Linked DNA regions of Homo sapiens. The protein of the gene in region 2 purifies or fractionates together with the protein of the main gene of each other region. This does not show direct contact. Each region holds a gene or a part of one and is shown on either strand. Other genes may lie near its edges.

Region 1 (4,328 bases), on a different chromosome or scaffold from region 2:
TTTCTCTATTAACCTAATTTATGTTTTCCACTTTCAAAAGCCAATATTTTAAAAATTGGCTATAGGACAAACAAAACATATAGTTAGTTAAGATAATCTTAGCTCTAAATCACCACTATAAACTTCTCCTTTGGGAAACCAACAGGAATGGGAAATTGAGATAAAGAAAAATGCAAGACTATTTTAAATTTAAAAGAGAACACTGGAAAATGTTTTATAAGCTTCAACTGTTTCTAGATTTGAGATTTATTCTTCACCCTGTGTTTTCTTCAATTAAAATGGACACAGAATTGAATTGAGTTAAACTGATCCTTTAAAATGCCAACAAGGTAAAATTTTTCAGAACTCACCTGTTGTAAATTAATGCCAGTGTATTTTTAAAACCTTGATGCTTTCAAAGTAATATTTACTTTAAATCAACGAAACATCTGAGCTTAACACTAATAATTATAAAAATAAAGTCTGTTTTTTCCAATCTGAGTTATGACTGCAAATACCAAATGTAAGAGTATCCTCAAACAAGTTGGGTGGTGAATGAGATATCAAAATTATTGATCTTTCTTTTTTTTTTTGAGATGAAGTTTTACTCTGTTGCCCAGGAGTGCAGTGATGTGATCTCGGCTCACTGCAACCTCCACCTCCGGGGTTCAAGTGATTCTTGTGCCTCAGCCTCCCGAGTAGCTGGGATTACAGGTGCGCTCTACGTGCCCAGCTAATTTATTTATTTTTTATTTTTATTTTTTTAGTAGAGATGGGGTTTCACCATGTTGGCCAGGCTAGTCTCGAACTCCTGAACTCAAATGATAAAACTACTGATCTTTCTAAACCTCTGCTAGGGTAATAAACAACCAAAATAATGTGAACCCAGGTGGCTCAGCTACAGCACCTGCTACTGATATTCAGACTAGTGCTTGAGGGAAGAGTCACTACAATTCTGAAGTAGGGTTTTATACAATGCTAAAGTGCTGGCTGTTCCTCATTTATCCCATCTAAGGTTGAATCTAACAGCAGAAAGTTAGCTAAGTATAACAAACCGATCTTATAGAATGCAATAAAGACCATGGATATATATGTACTAATGTCTAAAATATGTGACTTAACTAACTTGTCAGTGAAATCTTAGGGAAAGATTTAGAATTAAAAGATTAAGGTATTGAATTTCTTTTTTGAATGTGAACTCAAACATTCAAAATATTTATTTTGCATTTATTAATAACTTGAAACATTACTTACTTCCCTGTAAGAATTCCATTTCCTGTCCTTTCCCTTTCCAGAAGTAGTTTTGTAACACAAAATTTATATATCTTTAAAATATTAGTTCTAAGATTTCCTTGATAATTACCGACTGAAGTTTTACAAAGCAAATATTAGATTCCATTATTCAGATAATTCTTTTAGGCAATAAGATTTGGAATTGTGCTTATTACCCAAGGCAGCTATGACTGTGGCTAAAAGAAGAATACACAAAGCTGTTGGGTAGAGAACAGTCACAGAACCTTTAGCATACTACGTGTATATTCCATTTTTTAAAAACTGAATAAGCATAACGGCTGAACCTAAAGGGTGATACTGAAGGACAAACAGTGAAAACTACAAATCATGCGTAATCTGTCATCATGCTTAGAACCTTCTTAACTACAGCATTTTCCATTCTTACCTCAGATTTTTCCAGCTTATTTTGTGCATCAATTTGTGTAACAATCTCATTCATATTTGTCTCCAATACCATTCCCCCCATCACCATTTCTGCAAGAATATTGTGAACCTAAAGGGAATAAAAGAATATATACCCATAAAGAAAATTCACTAAAAAGAAGTTTCATGATTCACTTTTTGTTTCAAATACCACTTTGTCTATGTTAAAAGTATGAGTGGTAAAAACAACTTGGAGTAAGGGCTCATAATCCACTTTCATCACTACTGTGAAGCCCTAGGCAGTTATATAACCTCCTTAAGTCTGAGCTTAATGGGCTATAAAACAAAAACAATAGTACTACCTTCATAGGACTGTTGAAAGGAATAAGCAAGGTAATCCAATGCAGTACTCAAAACAAAGTAAATGACTAGTAAATATTAACTACCATTATTATTATTATTATGTGAAGTTTAATACTAAAATATGATTTATAAGAGCCTTTTATGCCAGATTCTTAGCCAACAATAATTAGGTTATTATTTTACACTCATGGTACTTAATGAAGCAATGTAGTACAGTACTTCTAACAGGCTCTAGATTGGAAAAAGGTAGAATTTTTTAAATTGTGGGTACTTTAATAGTGTTTTTACCCCCAAATCCTCTACACATGTAATATTCAGATTTCTTCTAATAAATACATCTTACAATGACTAAAAATGATGTCTTCCATTGGGGAGTAAAAATATAACTTCTGTCTTTTCATAAGGTATTATTGGATCAAAAAATCAACAATTCAGAACTGAATTACATTTCACAGAAGAATCTATTCTGCTATAATTTTTTTAAAATAATGTGGTAAGGTTAGAAATGGAGACTCCAAAATTAGATAAGTATGAATACAGACTCTACCACTTATTACTTGTAGCCCTTGAGCAGTTACTTCAGCTCTCTGAGTCTGTTACCTTATTTACGAAATAGAGACAGAAATAATATAGGCACCTCATAGGATTACCATAACAATTAAATAAATAATTTATGTAAGTGCTTAGCATAGAACCACTAGGTATTATACGGTAATTTTTTTTTCAACAAACTCTTTTTAGGAGTTAAATATGTATTACTCAATTTAAATTTCTTTGTAAGATTTCACGCAAATTTATTCATAATTTAAAAAATATCCCTGGAGGCTGGGTATGGTGGCTCACACCTGTAATCCCAACACTTTGGGAGGACAAGGTGGACAGATCACTGGCAATATGGCAAAACCCTGCCTTTACAAAAAATGCAGACAATTAGCCAGGCATAGTGCCTCACGTCTGTACTTCCAGCTACTCGGGAGGCTGACCCAGGAGGACTGCCTGAGCCCGGGAAGTGGAGGGTGCAGTGAGCTGAAATCACACTACTGCACTCTAGCATGGGCAACAGAGTGAGACCCTGCCTCAATTAAAAAAAAAAAAAAAGTCATCATTATTTACTATTTTTCATTTTGGAAGCATGGACACCTCATGCACAAATTCTGAAGACAAATTTATATAAATTAATCTTCCTAGCCAACCAAACCAAACCAGACATGACAGTGTTTTGAAAACTACCGTAACTTAAAAAAAAAAAAAAAAAAAAAGAATATAGGCAAATGACTAAAAGTTCATACAGAAACTTATGTATGAACAACAATAGTCTCTACCACACTCTGCATCCGTTTTTAGGTCCCTTTATCCAAAGCTACTCAGCTAGCTATATCTTAGGTATCCTAGAAAACTTGCTGTGCACATACTTGTTATACGTGTGTATATGCATATCTAATTTACACAAATGAGAACATATTATATACATTAATTTTCGCAGTTCTGCAAGAAAATAAAGAATTGAAAGTTAGAGGAAGGAAAGAATGAGAAATTAAGTTAGGAAAACCATAAAAGAGACTGGTGCCTGATATACATATGACAGTGATAAATGAAACTGTGTTGGTAAGAGCAAACAAACAAAAATATAAAAATTTAAAACAGTGAATCAACATTAATTATTAGACACATATTTTTATAATGAGATCTCTCACTGATCTCTGTCAGAGAAGCAAGCTGCAAATATGGAAAACGAGAAAGCCAGAAGAAATTCTGTAGTATTGTACTAGATTCTGAGGTATTAAGAAGTGGTCAATGATTTTTAATATCATATCAAGATCCAGAAACAGCTGTGCGTGTATACATACATCTATTTCCCAGCTCAGTTCACTAAGAACCAGGAGTCATGTCACCCCAGTAACAATGAGCAAACACAGTGCCCAAATCGTCATTTCTAAACATCATTCTCTACTGAAGGAAGCCAGGGTTCCTTGGAGAAATGGCTGACTTGAGGGCTGGAGCAGAAAATACGTAAGATGCTCTGTTCATTGAAAAGGCCATAAAACAATGAGCAACTTCATAATCATGAGCACCTCTAGACTGTAGTTACTATATACCATCGCCAACAAAAAGGAATCAGGGCTCCTAGAAAAGAATGGTTGACAACATGTCTGGAACAGGAAATGAATAAAATGAGTTTAGAACATCTAGCTGGACCACAACACAAGACAGCTACCAAAGCCTATGACGGGGTAGGTCAGGTCAAATGAACTAGCAAAGATAATCTGAAGGGGTTCCCACTGGCCAAAGATGGGCAACTTGAACATAATAGAAAATAATGTCTGCAACTG
Region 2 (4,328 bases):
TTCTCCCACCTCAGCCTCCTGAGTAGCTGTGCCTACAGGCACATGCCACTGTGCCCAGCTCTCCTGCCTTTTAAGTCCACTTGGACCCCACCCTGAAGCTTCGACTTAGATCCAAGCCCTTGGAAGCAGATCCCCCTGCTGGGCCTGCCAGGCCCTGGTCCTTCCTTGGATCTCGTGGCAAGGCCTGGGGGCTGGGCTTGAGGTCTCTGTGGGAGTCACCTCTCAGTGCAGGTCAGAAAGTCCAGCCAGGTGGGGTGGTTCATGCCTGTAATTCCAGCACTTTGAGAGGCTGAGGTGAGAGGATCGCTTGAGCAGAGGAGTTTGAGACCAGCCTGGGAAACATGTTGAGACCCCATCTCTACAAAAAATTAGCTGGGCATGGTGGTGCATGCCTGTTGTCCCAGCTACTTGGGAGGCTGAGGTGAAAAGATTGCTTGAGCCCAGGAGGTTGAGGCTGCAGTGAGCTGTAATTGCACCACTGCACTTCAGCCTAGGCAACAGAGCAAGACCCCATCTCAAAAAGAAAAGAATGATGGCTGGACGCGGTGTCTCACGCCTGTAATCCCAGCACTTTGGGAGACCAAGGTAGGTGGATCACTTGAGGTCAGGAGTTCAAGGCCAACCTGGCCAACATAGTGAAACCTTGTCTCTACTAAAAAATAAAAAAATTAGCTGGGTGTGATCATGTGTGCCTTAGTCCCAGCTACTCAGGAGGCTGGCACATGAGAATCGCTTGAACCTGGGAGGTGAAGTTGCAGTGAGCCAAGGTTGCGCCACTGCCCTCCAGACTGGGTGACAGAGCGAGACGCTGTCTCAAAAAAAAACAAAAAACAAAAAAAAAAACCAGAATGACTGTGTCCACATTCTGCTTCTAGCTACCCAGACAGAAATAGAACAGAAATGTGCCCTCCACCCCAAAGCTGAGAAGGCCTGCTGGGGAGAAAGGAATGAGGGCAGCTGTCTTGGACTCAGCCGAAGAAGGCCCCAAAGAGAGATGTCCCTTTTACTTGTTCAATACTTGCTGATTCTGCACCCAGCCCCACGTTGGGCAGTGCTGGGGACATGGAAGTGATCTAGGCAGCCCCAGCCTTATTATCACAAGGCTCACAGTCCCATACAGGAGTCCCAATGAGGCCCCAGAATGGGCTGGGATGGGGAAGCCCAGCAGGTGTGAGAACCCAGAGAGGGTGCTTAACCAAGCCTGAGTGCTCTGTGAGTCAGGGAGGGCTTCCTGGAGGAGGTTGGATTTGAGCCTAGGGCTGCGAGAGTCCACAGCCGTAGAGCCTGAGTCTGAATCTCTCATGCGATGTGGCCTTGGGTAAATCACTTTCCTTCTCTCTCAGTTTCCTCACATGTTAAATGAGAATAATAACAGTTCCTGCTTCACAGGGTTGCCGGGAAATTTCCATGAGTCAGCCTAGCTTAGTACCCTGCACTTAGCTCAATCAACATTAACTAATATTATTTTGAAACGGGGCTGCCTGATAAACTGGTGATAGGCAAACATCCCCAAGGACAATTACTAATCTTTCACCAGTTTAAAGTGGAGGACTGCACAACCTTAGAGGTAGCTGGGAGGGTCCCAGGCCAATTCCACCCCTATCTACCTTTTTCAGGTAGGGGAAAGTGAAGCCCAGAGATCTCAGGGACTGGCTTGTGGTCACAGACCATGTGAGCCCAGGGAAGGGCCAAGCCTGGAGCCCAAACTCCACATGCTCTCAGCAAGGAGCGGACTGGAGGAAAAGGTCCTTCAGTGCCAGTCAAGCAGCCATGGGGCCAGAAACCGAGAGCTGCCCCCACCTGTGGGATATCGAGCTCAGCAAAGTGCTCGTAGCAGCCGTCTGAGTTCTCGCCGCTAGTCCAGTCGCCATACACAAGATCGTGCTGTTCCCAGAAGAGTGCCGACGTGGCGTTGAAGTCTGTAAAGTGCTCGTGCTCTGAGATGTACACATGCAGGTTCTGTTGGGACAGGAAGGGAACAGAGCTCAGGCCTGCTCTTCAGAGCCTCTGCAGGCTGGCTAAAGAGCTATGGCAGCGGTCAGCACACTCAGGGGAACAGTAATTATGGAGGACAGGGGAGAGGAGAGAGGAAGAGCAGCAGAGAGGACATATTTTCTCTTTTCTCATACCACCATGTTTGTCCTGGTCTGAGCCTGTGAAGTCAACGAACAAAGAACACTTGGAGACTGGCCAGCCTGCCAATTAGAATTTAGGGGTAGGAAGGGGCAGGAGCTCCCTGAATGATCTCCTGCCCTCATGGCTGCTGGGCCTTCCTGGTCAGAGCTCTGCAGGCTTATGGACGAAGCAGTCCAGAGCTACAAAAGCACTGTGAGCCACCGGGCACGGTGGCTCATGCCTGTGATCCCAGCACGTTGGGAGGCCAAGGCGGGTAGACCACTTGAGGTCAGGAGTTCGAGACCAGCGTACCAAAAAGGTAAAACCCCATCTCTACTAAAAATACAAAAAATTAGCTGGACGTGGTGGCACATGCCTGTAATCCCAGCTAGTCGTGAGGCTGAGGCAGGAGGATCACTGGAGCCCGGGAGGCAGAGGTTGCAGTGAGCTAAGATTATGCCACTGCACTCTAGCCTGGGCGACAGAGTGAGACTCCATCTCAAAAAAAAAAAAAAAAAAAACCCACTGTGACCCAACAAGAACTTCCTCCTTTCTCAAGCCCCAATGGCCATGTTTGCTCAGAAAAGCCTAGACTGACAGATCTAAATGCTTTTGCTCTGGAGGCTCCTGAAGCCCTGCCCTGCCTGTGCCCAAGCCCACTGTGGAAGTGCAGGTCTCCTCTCCTTCCGGGCCCACCTCCTGTCAGCCTCTGCTGGCTCCCTGCCCTCCCCACCTCTCACACTCTCTCCCTTGCACATCTCCCTCTGCAACCCTGAAAGGCTGAACATACTTTTGAAATATAACATCCAAAGACCCTGATTTAACCTATTTTAACCAAATGAATTTGCTTTTTCTTTTGGGTGACACAGGTTTTATGTGCTGGGGATGGACCCAGGTGACAGAGGTCTCACGTGTTGGGGATGGGCCCAGAGTTCCTCAACCCTGGACCTGTTTTCCTAGACCTGCCAGTGAGCAAGGACCTGGTCTGTCCCGACTGCTGACATCACTCCTCCACATTCCACCCCTCCACACCCCATCACCTCCCAAGTCTGCCCTACCACCCGGCAGTTACCATTAAAGTGTCTTTGGGGAACAGGTTGCGGCTGGCGACGCGTGGAGCTCCTCCGGGGCCCGCCTGGTCCTGAGGGGCCGGCCCTCGGCGGAACCAACTGCTGATGGCCCAGATGATGAAGATCCTGAGGAGAGAAGCAGCAAGGTGGTGAGTCCCCAAGCCTTGGCTCTCCGCCATAGACCCGCCTGACTTCCTTCTGACTTAGCACATGCTGGCGCCTGACCTGGGGCTAGTGACCAAGTCAGGGAGGCCCTGAGAAGGTAGTCACAGGGCTGGCAAGGAGATAAGATGTCCCTAAAGACCACATCTGGGGAGGGAGCCCAGATGCCACCGTTTGCCAGTGTGTGGGGGTAGCTGGCACTGCCCTGGTCTGCATGCAGACCCTTGACTCTAAATCCTGCAGGAGCTCCTGGTGACCACAGGGCTGCAGGGGCTGACTCTTGACTCAGACTGGGAAACCTGCCATCCAGCCCCCTGGGATCCCCCGAGAGGAGACTAAGAATCTGGAACCCCTTCAGTGTGCAGATGGATGAATTAAAAGAAAAAAGAAATAAAGAAAAAATAATAAACATAAAATTTTTAAAAGAAAGAATCTGGAATCCTAGCGCTTCAAAAGCACAGAACCGGGGATGGTTAATGGCTACAAAAAATAGAATGAACGAGGACGGGCGCGGCGGCTCATGCCTGTAATCCCAGCACTTTGGGAGGCCAAGGCGGGCGGATCACGAGGTCAGGAGATTGAGACCATCCTGGCTAACATGGTGAAACCCTGTCTCTACTAAAAAATACAAAAAAATTAGCTGGGCATGGTGGCGGGCGCCTGTAGTCCCAGCTACTCCGGAGGCTGAGGCAGGAGAATGGTGTGAACCCAGGAGGCAGAGGTTGCAGTGAGCCAAGATCGCGCCACTGCACTCCAGCCTGGGCAACAGAGCGAGACTCCATCTCAAAAAAAAAAAGAATGAATGAGATCTAGTATTTGGTAGCAAAACACGGCAACTCTAGTCAATAGTAATTTAATTACACATTTTAAAATAACTTAAGAAGTATAGAGGCCAGGCACAGTGGCTCATGCCTGTAACTTTGGGAGGCTGAAGTGGGCAAATCACGAGGTCAAGAAATCGAGATCATCGTGGCCAACATG
Region 3 (4,221 bases), on a different chromosome or scaffold from region 2:
GTGAGCCGAGATTGCGCCACTGCACTCCAGCCTGGGCGACAGAGCAAGACTCCGTCTCACAAAAAAAAAAAAAGGGTGCAACAGATCTAATAATAGCAGGGATCATGGGGGCCAGATAGAAAGACTTGACAGCTCAGTGCCTCTGGCCAAAGGTATTTGCAGTGTTGAATTGGCAAGTAGCTCGTACACAAAGGGAAAAAGATATACCACATGTACATGGAATAAAGGTAAACCAGACTTTAAAGCTTCTTCATCAGGCCTGATTTCACCTCTGAATCCAAAATATCCTTTGAGTCATGGAGATCCAGCTCATCGGGTTATGTTGGAGAGGCCTAAGGTCACAGTGAGTTTTGGCAGAGCTAGAATGAAAACCTGGGGTTCCAACCTCTTTCCTCTGTTCCCTGGTAGCAAGTTAGGTAACTTCCCGGTTTCTTGGGGAGCCTTGAGTCTGTAAATACTTTGAATGGAAAGCTTTTTTTATTGAGCTAATTAATGGAATTGCCTTTTGGGACCAGAAAGAGCCCAATGAGTGTGCGCATCTGCTTTGCCCCTGCCCAGCTCTCCCTGCAGATGCTGCTCTGCCCCTCTCCTCTGCCTGGTGGGTAGGGATCAGCCCTCTGGATCCTGTCCCTACCCTTTCCATCTCCTCTGAGGTCAGCTAGGCTCAGTAGGCTGGAATTCACACAACGGCCCATACAGACACACACCTGTATTGTGCCTACTCCTTGTGATTGGGGTCATGGTGATGAGGACCCTCCCTTCCCCCTCTTGGTCATGGATAATGTGATATGTCTGTGAGCTTGAGGTGCCCCAGACCACTCTCTGACTTGGGGAGGGAGTCCTGTTGGACTCCACCCCCACGGGGCACTCAGGCTGCTGTTTGCTCATCTAGCTGGTGCTCAAGGCACTGGGCCCAGACCTAGATCCTCATTTGCAAACGGAACCCAGAGGTCGAGCTTGTCAAGCCCTGGGCTCTGCCACCCAGGCCAGCTAGATAGGCTGTGGAATGACCCTGAGGGCTGGAGAAAAGTCAGCAGTTGGGAAATAAACGGTAGGGAAAATGTCCAGACGGAGAACCCAGGTTGATGAGGTACGAAATCAGTGTGGTGATGACATTTTGTTGCCTTCAAGGTGGAAGGGGTTAGCTTTTATTTCATGTCTGAGCCAAAAAGCAACCTTGATCCTGGTTAATAAGCAGAAGAGAAGTGGTGTTGACACATGTATAAGGAAATTAGACATAAAACAGTGTTACTGACCTTCGGAATCCCTGAAGGAGCAAAGAACCCCCTTCAGAGGAGCCATAGAACCTACCCTACTTCCTCCAATTGACCTTGCTGGGTTTTCTCCAAGACGAATGCAAATTCATTTCTCATTCAATTTCATTCTCTTCCAATTGTATTAATACTATGGTAACACATTAGGAAATTACTTACCTATCTAATACATACTAATTAAAGTCGTTAGTGTGGATTTTGTTTTATTATTATTTTTTTTTCAATTATTATCATTATTTTTTTTTTGAGATGGAGTCTCACTTTGTTGCTGGAGTGCAGTGGCATGATCTCGGCTCACTGCAACCTCCACCTCCCAGGTTTCAAGTGATTCTCCTGCCTCAGCCTCCCAAGTAGCTGGGATTACAGGTGTGCGCCACCATACCTGGCCAATTTTTGTATTTTTAGTAGAGACAGGGTTTCACCATGTTGGCCAGGCTGGTCTCGAACTCCTGACCTCAGGTCATCCACCCACCTCAGCCTCCCAAAGTGTTGGGATTACAGGCGTGAGCCACCACGCCCGACTGATTTTTATTTTTATTTTTTGAGATGAGGTTCTCACTTTTGTCCAGGCTGGAATGTAGTGGTGCCATGCCATCACGGCTTACTGCAGCCTTGACTTCCCAGGCTGAAGCAATCCTCTCACCTCAGCCTTCTGGGTAGCTGGTGTGTGCTACAGGTGTGTGCCACCATGACTGGCTATTTTATTTTTCTCGAGGAGACAGGGTTTTGCTATGTTGCCCAGGCTGGTCTCAAACTCCTGGGCTCAAGCAGTGCTTCTACCTTGACCTCCCAAAGTGCTAGGATTATAGGCATGAGCCACTGTGCCTGGCCTAAAGTTGTTAGTATGGATTTTAAATGTCTTACACAGCTTTTACTAGAACTGTGACTGCATGGAATAACGATGGCATTTCACTGCAATTATATATGTTTCTGTTAAAAGGCTGGGTAGATTTCAGTGGGAGCTTGGAAACTGAATCATGATTTATGGCTTTAATATGTGGGTCAGGGCTTTTAAGTTCCAGTGACTGGCTAACATACAAGGAAACTTTTTTTTTTTTTTTTTTTTTGAGACAGAGTCTCCCTCTGTCGCCAGGCTGCAGTGCAGTGGTGTGATCTTGGCTCACGGCAAGCTCCGCCTCCCAGGTTCACGCCATTCTCCTGCCTCAGCCTCCCAAGTAACTGGGACTACAGGCGAGCACCACCACGCCCAGCTAATTTTTATACTTTTAGTAGAGATGGGGTTTCACCATGTTGGCCAGAATGGTCTCGATCTCTTGACCTCGTGATCTGCCCGCCTCAGCCTCCCAAAGTGCTGGGATTACGGCGTTAGCCACCGCACCCGGCCCATACAAGGAAACATTTTAAACACAATTTTTATTAGTGCCATCCTATGCCTTGTAGACTTTAAGGGATAACACAGTTATGGAGTGACAAGTAACTAGAGCCTGTAAGAGACTAAAGCCTCATTAATGTGATGCCTGCCTGATATTATTCCCCATTTTGGTTATTACGACATTGTAGGAAAACTTATCAAATTATTCTTTGAAAAGTGTATAACTTAACATTTCTATAGGTGTAGATGCCCCTGATCCAGGTGCAGACCCGCTGGCTAGCAGTGTGAACGGCATGTGCCTGGATATTCCTGCTCACCTGAGCATCCGCATCCTCATCTCGGATGCTGGCGCGGTGGAAGGGATTACTCAGCAGGAGATACTCGGTGTAGAGACAAGGTATGATCACATCTTGGATCACCGTAGTTTAGAGAGAGTCAGGAAAGTTGAGAGCATCCCAAACAATAGGGAAATGTTTATTTAGAAACTGATTGTTTATTTACAACTTGCAATTATTAGCAAGATGTTTATATGCACATATGGAATATGTACGAACTATGTGTATAATGGAGACTTATTCTCACAAGTATTTATAAAGCCATATGTAAGAGAGTCTGCAAGTTATTTTAGGGAGTACAAAGATGAATAAAGGGCCCCTTAGTACTAAGTATATTTTGAAATCCATGGATGTAACTGATAATCTGATCAGAGAATATTGTCTGTGGTTAGAGACTTTGGCAGCAGATAGGTTCAAATCATGGCTGTCCTACTTAGGAGCTGTGTGACACTGGCCAATTACTTAACCTTTCTGAGCTGTAGTTTCCTCCTCTGTAATATGGTGATAATACCTTTATGTATCAAGCCTCCATCAGTTTTTTTTTTTTTTTTTTTTGAGACAGAGTCTTGCTCCGTCTCCAGGCTGGAGTGCAGTGGCAATATCTTGACTCACTGCAACCTCCAACTCTCTAGTTCAAGCGATTCTCCTGCTTCAGCCTCCCGAGTAGCTGGGATTACAGGCACGTGCCACCATGTCCAGCTAATTTTTGTATTTTTAGTAAAGACAGGGTTTCACCCTGTTGGCCAGGATGGTCTCAATCTCCTGACCTCATGATCCGCCCGCCTCGGCCTCCCAAAGTGCTGGGATTACAGGCATGAGCCACCGCGCCCAGCCTGCCTCCATCGGTTTTAAGTGACAGGCGCCCAGTTCATACTGACTTAAGCAAAAAGGGGAGTTTATTGGTTCAAGTTCAGAGTAATCCACATACAGCTAGTTCATGGTTCATGGTTCCAGTGTGGTCAGGGATCTTTTTGTTTTCGTATCTCAGCTCCTCTTCCTTTGGGTTGGCTTCATTCTCAGGGAGGTTCTCCTCAAGAGATGGCAAAGATCAGCACCAGCAATCCAGGCTTATGTCACTGCAGCAAGTCCAGTGGGGAGAAAGCCCCTTTCCTCCTCTTTCCTTTCTTTCTTTCTTTTTTTTTTTTTTGAGACGGAGTTTTGCTCTTGTTGCCCAGGCTGGAGTGCAGTGGTGCCATCTTGGCTCACTGCAACCTCCACCAACCGGGTTCAAGCGATTCTCCTGCCTCAGCCTCCTAAGTAGCTGAGGTTACAAGCATGT
Region 4 (4,328 bases), on a different chromosome or scaffold from region 2:
AACTAAATGGAAGCAGAGGCCAAAGAATACCAGGAGTGAATGGTGTATCAGAAATCTTAAAAGGGAAGTTTTGAGATGGAGAAGTGGGAAGAGGCATCAACTGCTACAGAAAAGCTACATGCTTTCTAAGATCTCTTTCTGCTAAAAAAAATTTCTTTGATTCCTTAAGAATATAAAAATCCACAAAGAAACAAACTACCCTTTCCATTAAAGGCAAATATTTTCTATCTCTTTACATTTTTTTTTTGAAGCTAAATCCTAAAGAAAAAGTTCCAGAGCACTAGTTCAGAAACTTGAGCTCAGTTTTTATATTAACTTACTGTATGCATGACATTTATTCTCAGTAAGTGGGAGTTTGCAAGGATTGTTAACTCCTCTAAGAAAGGGATTCTATGGATAATACAACTGGACAGCTAGGACGTCCTGACAACTAGTTACATCTTTAGATGTCCTAGTACTACTGTTAAGTAAAACATGCAAAGCACAAAAGAGTATCTAGAATATGCTACCCGTCACATAAGAAAGAAAGGGACTTCAGAAAATATGGGCTGGGTGCAGTGGCTAACACCTGTAATCCCAGCACATTAGGAGGCCAAGGCGCGTGGATCACCTGAGGTCAGGAGTTCGAGACCAGCCTGGCCAACATGGAGAAACCCCATCTCTACTAAAAATACAAAAGTAGCCAGGCATGGTGTCAGGTGCCTGTAATCCCAGCTAGGCGGGAGGCTGAGGCAGAAGAATCGCATGAACCCAGGAGGCAGAGGTTGCGGTGAGCCAAGATTGCACCAGTGTACTCCAGCCTAGGCAACAAGAGCAAAACTCCATCTCAAAAGAAAAAAAAAAAAAGAAAGAAAAGAAAAAGAAAATACGTATATGCAGAAGAAATACAGGAAGAACAAACCGGAAGCTAACAGAATTGGTTACCAAGAGGGAATGGGTGGGAAACAGCTGGAAAGAAGGGGAGGATGGGAAAGTGGTAGCAAGGATGAAGAAGCGATATACACATGCTCTGCCCCTTAGAACCATAGTATTCATATACCCAAAATACAAACAATTTAAATCAACCAGGATATAGGAGGAATATAAACATTAACAAAGAATCTAGCTGGATCCTAAATGAGTAATATCAGCCATAATGAAAAGAGTAGGGAAAAAGAGAACTACACTAAGAAACTATCTGGAAAAGAGTATCTGGGCTGGATACTGTAAAGCTAGAGATAAAAGGAACTTTACATAAACTTGTCAGTAAATGTCTTTCTCACAGGGATACGAGCTAACAATTTGAAACCACTTTGTGTGTACTTATATGCATACTCAAGTGAAACCAATAAGTAAATATGTTATAGATACAGATAATAAGAACCAGGTTTTTCCCTGTTGGAGGAAGAATTTTCAAATAAGACAAGGGGGAAAGTTAAAAATTAACTCTGTAGTGTTCAGTCCAGCCAGAATCCAAAATATCTGCATAATCTCATGGTTTAACACAAGAGTAGGTTGACAGACACGGAACTACAGACTCATGTACATGCATGGGTTGGTATACATATGTATATTCCCTAGCTCTGTCCAGTAAGAGGCCTAGAGGTAACGGCACCGCGGTAGTAATGAGCATACCTAGTGCCCAAAGGTTGGTTTTCAAATACCTTTCTCAAGAAAAAGGAACCAGGGCTCACTGAGGGCAGAGAAAATACAAGATGACCCTAGAAGATAGAGCAGTACCATAAATTTTTAAAATGCTCAAAAAAAGATGAGGGCTTGTTGAGAGAACAAAGATGCCAACATGAAGGAGCTCAGAATGACCATACCTGAAACAATTTGAGCAGCAAAATAAATAAGGAGAGTGTTGGACTGTAACCTATGGAATAAGTATCCATGAGTCTGAACTGATCTAAATAAATAACTAAATAAATAAATGGGAGAGAAAAGATAGTTGGTCCTGACAGCAGAATTCCAATGAACAAATATGGAGGGAATTATTTCGAAATATAAACATCGGGGCCAGGCGTGGTGGCTCACGCCTGTAATCCCAACACTATGGGAGGCAGAGGCAGGAGGACTGCTTGAGCCCAGGAGTTTGAGATCAGCCTGGGCAACATGGCAAAATCCCAACTCCAAAAAAAATAGAAAAATTAGCTGGGTGTGGTGGCATGTACCTGTAGTCCCAGCTACTCAGGAGGCTGAGATGGGAGGATCATTTGAGCCCAGGAGGTTGAGGCTGCAGAGAGCTGTGATTGCACTACTGCACTCCAGCCTGGGCAACAGAGCTAGACCCTGTCTCAAAAAAATAAATAAATAAATACATAAAAATAAAAATTAAAAAAAAATCAGCATTTGGCAAAAACCACTTTCTTGTTACAGGCAAGAAACATCAATGGATGCTAAAATGAATGAGCAGAAGGTTGAAATGGATACTTACATAGTCTCAAAGTACCTTCTCCAAAATACTAACCACAAAGGGAAATACAGTAACTTTAAAGTAGAGATAGCAATAGGAAACCACCATAACCGAGTGATCACAGCCAACATCATCAGTAATATCTTACCAATCTTATATAATAATATATATAATTATATTATATAACATATTATAATATATAATATCTTCTTATCAAAATGTGGAACTTCCATCCAACCAAACCCAAATCAAAAGGTATTAACTGATTAATGCTCTTGGAAAATGTCAAGGTCATGAAAGACAAGGGAAGATGAACTACTGCAGACTGCAGAAGGCTAAAGAGAAAAAATAACTAAATGTAATGTGCGATTGTGGATGGGATCCTGGAATAGAATAGGCCTTGGTGGAGAAACTGATAAATTTTGAATAGGTCATTAATTTAGTTGATTGAATTGTATCAATGTTAATTTCCTGGTTCTGACAATTAAACCATGGTTATATAAATTAGAGAAAGATGGGTGAAGAATGTATAGAAACTTCCCATACTATTTCTGTAGCTTCTGAGGTCTAAAATTAGATCGAAATAAAAAGATTTTTAAAAAGGTTGCGTTACATGATCCAGTCTATTTCTAAAAGGATTCTATTCATTTAACTAAACTATTTGAAGAGCTAAACTATTCATCTAGCATCATAAATATTTCAATCATGAGTTCAGATTATGAAGATTTTTTAAAATGCAAAGAGAAAAATTGAAGAAATATAAATTTGCAGTTATAAGTTAAGTGCCTTTAATCTCTAGACATCAGGTATAATCACCTTCTGTTTGATCTAACCTTGTTTAATTCTCCAGTCCTAAAGAACTCACCTTGACATTCTTGTTTGTCAAGGGTTCTATCGGTTGGGACAGTGCTCTGAAATGTTAGGTTATGGAAACATGACACTATGGTTTGTTATCTCTGCTCCAGGCATTGAAAGCTATTAATTATCTGCATAAGTCAATCATTCTCATTAGAAATTTATTGTTCAACATTCTAAGGACACAATTATCTCCTCTCTGCTCCAACTCTGTCCAGTCTCTCTGAGAGTAAAAGATGGGAATGAAAAAGAGGTAGTCACACATATTACGTTCAAAATGGTTTCATTCCATCAAAAAGAATTTCCTGCATCAGGTCTGCTTGTATTATAGTCTTACAATGCTACACATATTTATTCCTCTAGTACTTTTCATAAAAGTGTTATATATTATTTCATATTCTTTTTATATTTTATAAATATAAGAACACACCTGGCTCTGTCAAGTAACTGACAAATCTCTTTAAAAGATGCCAAAACATTTTTTCTTTTCCAGCTCTAAACAATTAAAAACTTTAGACATGTTTGCAGTTTTTGAATATTAAAAGTTGCTGTATTTATGGTCCCCTATTTGTAAAATGAATCTAGAACGGGATTCTTACCCTCATGCAGAAATCTTGCAATACAGTGCTTGCACACCTGAAGTCACAAATTTAGGATAAAAAAAATCACATAACACACAAACGCTACTTTTCCATACTTACTTCATTTCATTTACTTGTCTCAGAATCTCATGCTGAGTTTTCACAACAGTATCCAGTTCTTGTTGAGTAATCTGGAGGAAGAAACAATGACGAGCAAGCTGAATAATCCACATTCTATGAGCACATAGTACAGTTGCCCTTCTTCTTTACTTCCCTTCCAGCAAAGGGTAAATGGGGCACATCTGCATATTCTGCAAGCCCACCTGCCCATGCTGCCCAGGCATTCCTGCTCCTCTTTTAGAGATTTCCTCTGTTAAGGAAGAGACATATCTTCTCTGTTCATCAAGAATCATATCTAACTGCCGGTTCAGCTGCTTGATTTCAAGATGAATACGATTCTGTCCTTCAAAGACTTGTCTTAGCTCTCGATCTCCTAC

What was found.
Region 1: the proteins of CLPTM1 (region 2) and AP3S1 purify together in Homo sapiens (affinity purification with mass spectrometry; one large-scale study listed by BioGRID and IntAct). This does not show direct contact.
Region 3: the proteins of CLPTM1 (region 2) and TCTN2 purify together in Homo sapiens (affinity purification with mass spectrometry; one large-scale study listed by BioGRID and IntAct). This does not show direct contact.
Region 4: the proteins of CLPTM1 (region 2) and LMAN1 purify together in Homo sapiens (affinity purification with mass spectrometry, with the first as the bait; one large-scale study listed by BioGRID). This does not show direct contact.

What each region holds. Positions count from the first base shown.
Region 1 is NC_000005.10:115,900,322-115,904,649, reverse strand, and holds part of AP3S1 (AP-3 complex subunit sigma-1), read right to left. Parts: intron 1,766-4,328; coding exon 1,658-1,765; intron 1-1,657. UniProt on the Homo sapiens protein: Part of the AP-3 complex, an adaptor-related complex which is not clathrin-associated. The complex is associated with the Golgi region as well as more peripheral structures.
Region 2 is NC_000019.10:44,972,070-44,976,397, reverse strand, and holds part of CLPTM1 (putative lipid scramblase CLPTM1), read right to left. Parts: intron 3,312-4,328; coding exon 3,188-3,311; intron 1,960-3,187; coding exon 1,801-1,959; intron 1-1,800. UniProt on the Homo sapiens protein: Involved in GABAergic but not glutamatergic transmission. Binds and traps GABAA receptors in the endoplasmic reticulum (ER).
Region 3 is NC_000012.12:123,701,685-123,705,905, forward strand, and holds part of TCTN2 (tectonic-2 isoform 1 precursor), read left to right. Parts: intron 1-2,847; coding exon 2,848-3,004; intron 3,005-4,221.
Region 4 is NC_000018.10:59,334,606-59,338,933, forward strand, and holds part of LMAN1 (protein ERGIC-53 precursor), read right to left. Parts: coding exon 4,155-4,328; intron 4,023-4,154; coding exon 3,952-4,022; intron 1-3,951. UniProt on the Homo sapiens protein: Mannose-specific lectin. May recognize sugar residues of glycoproteins, glycolipids, or glycosylphosphatidyl inositol anchors and may be involved in the sorting or recycling of proteins, lipids, or both.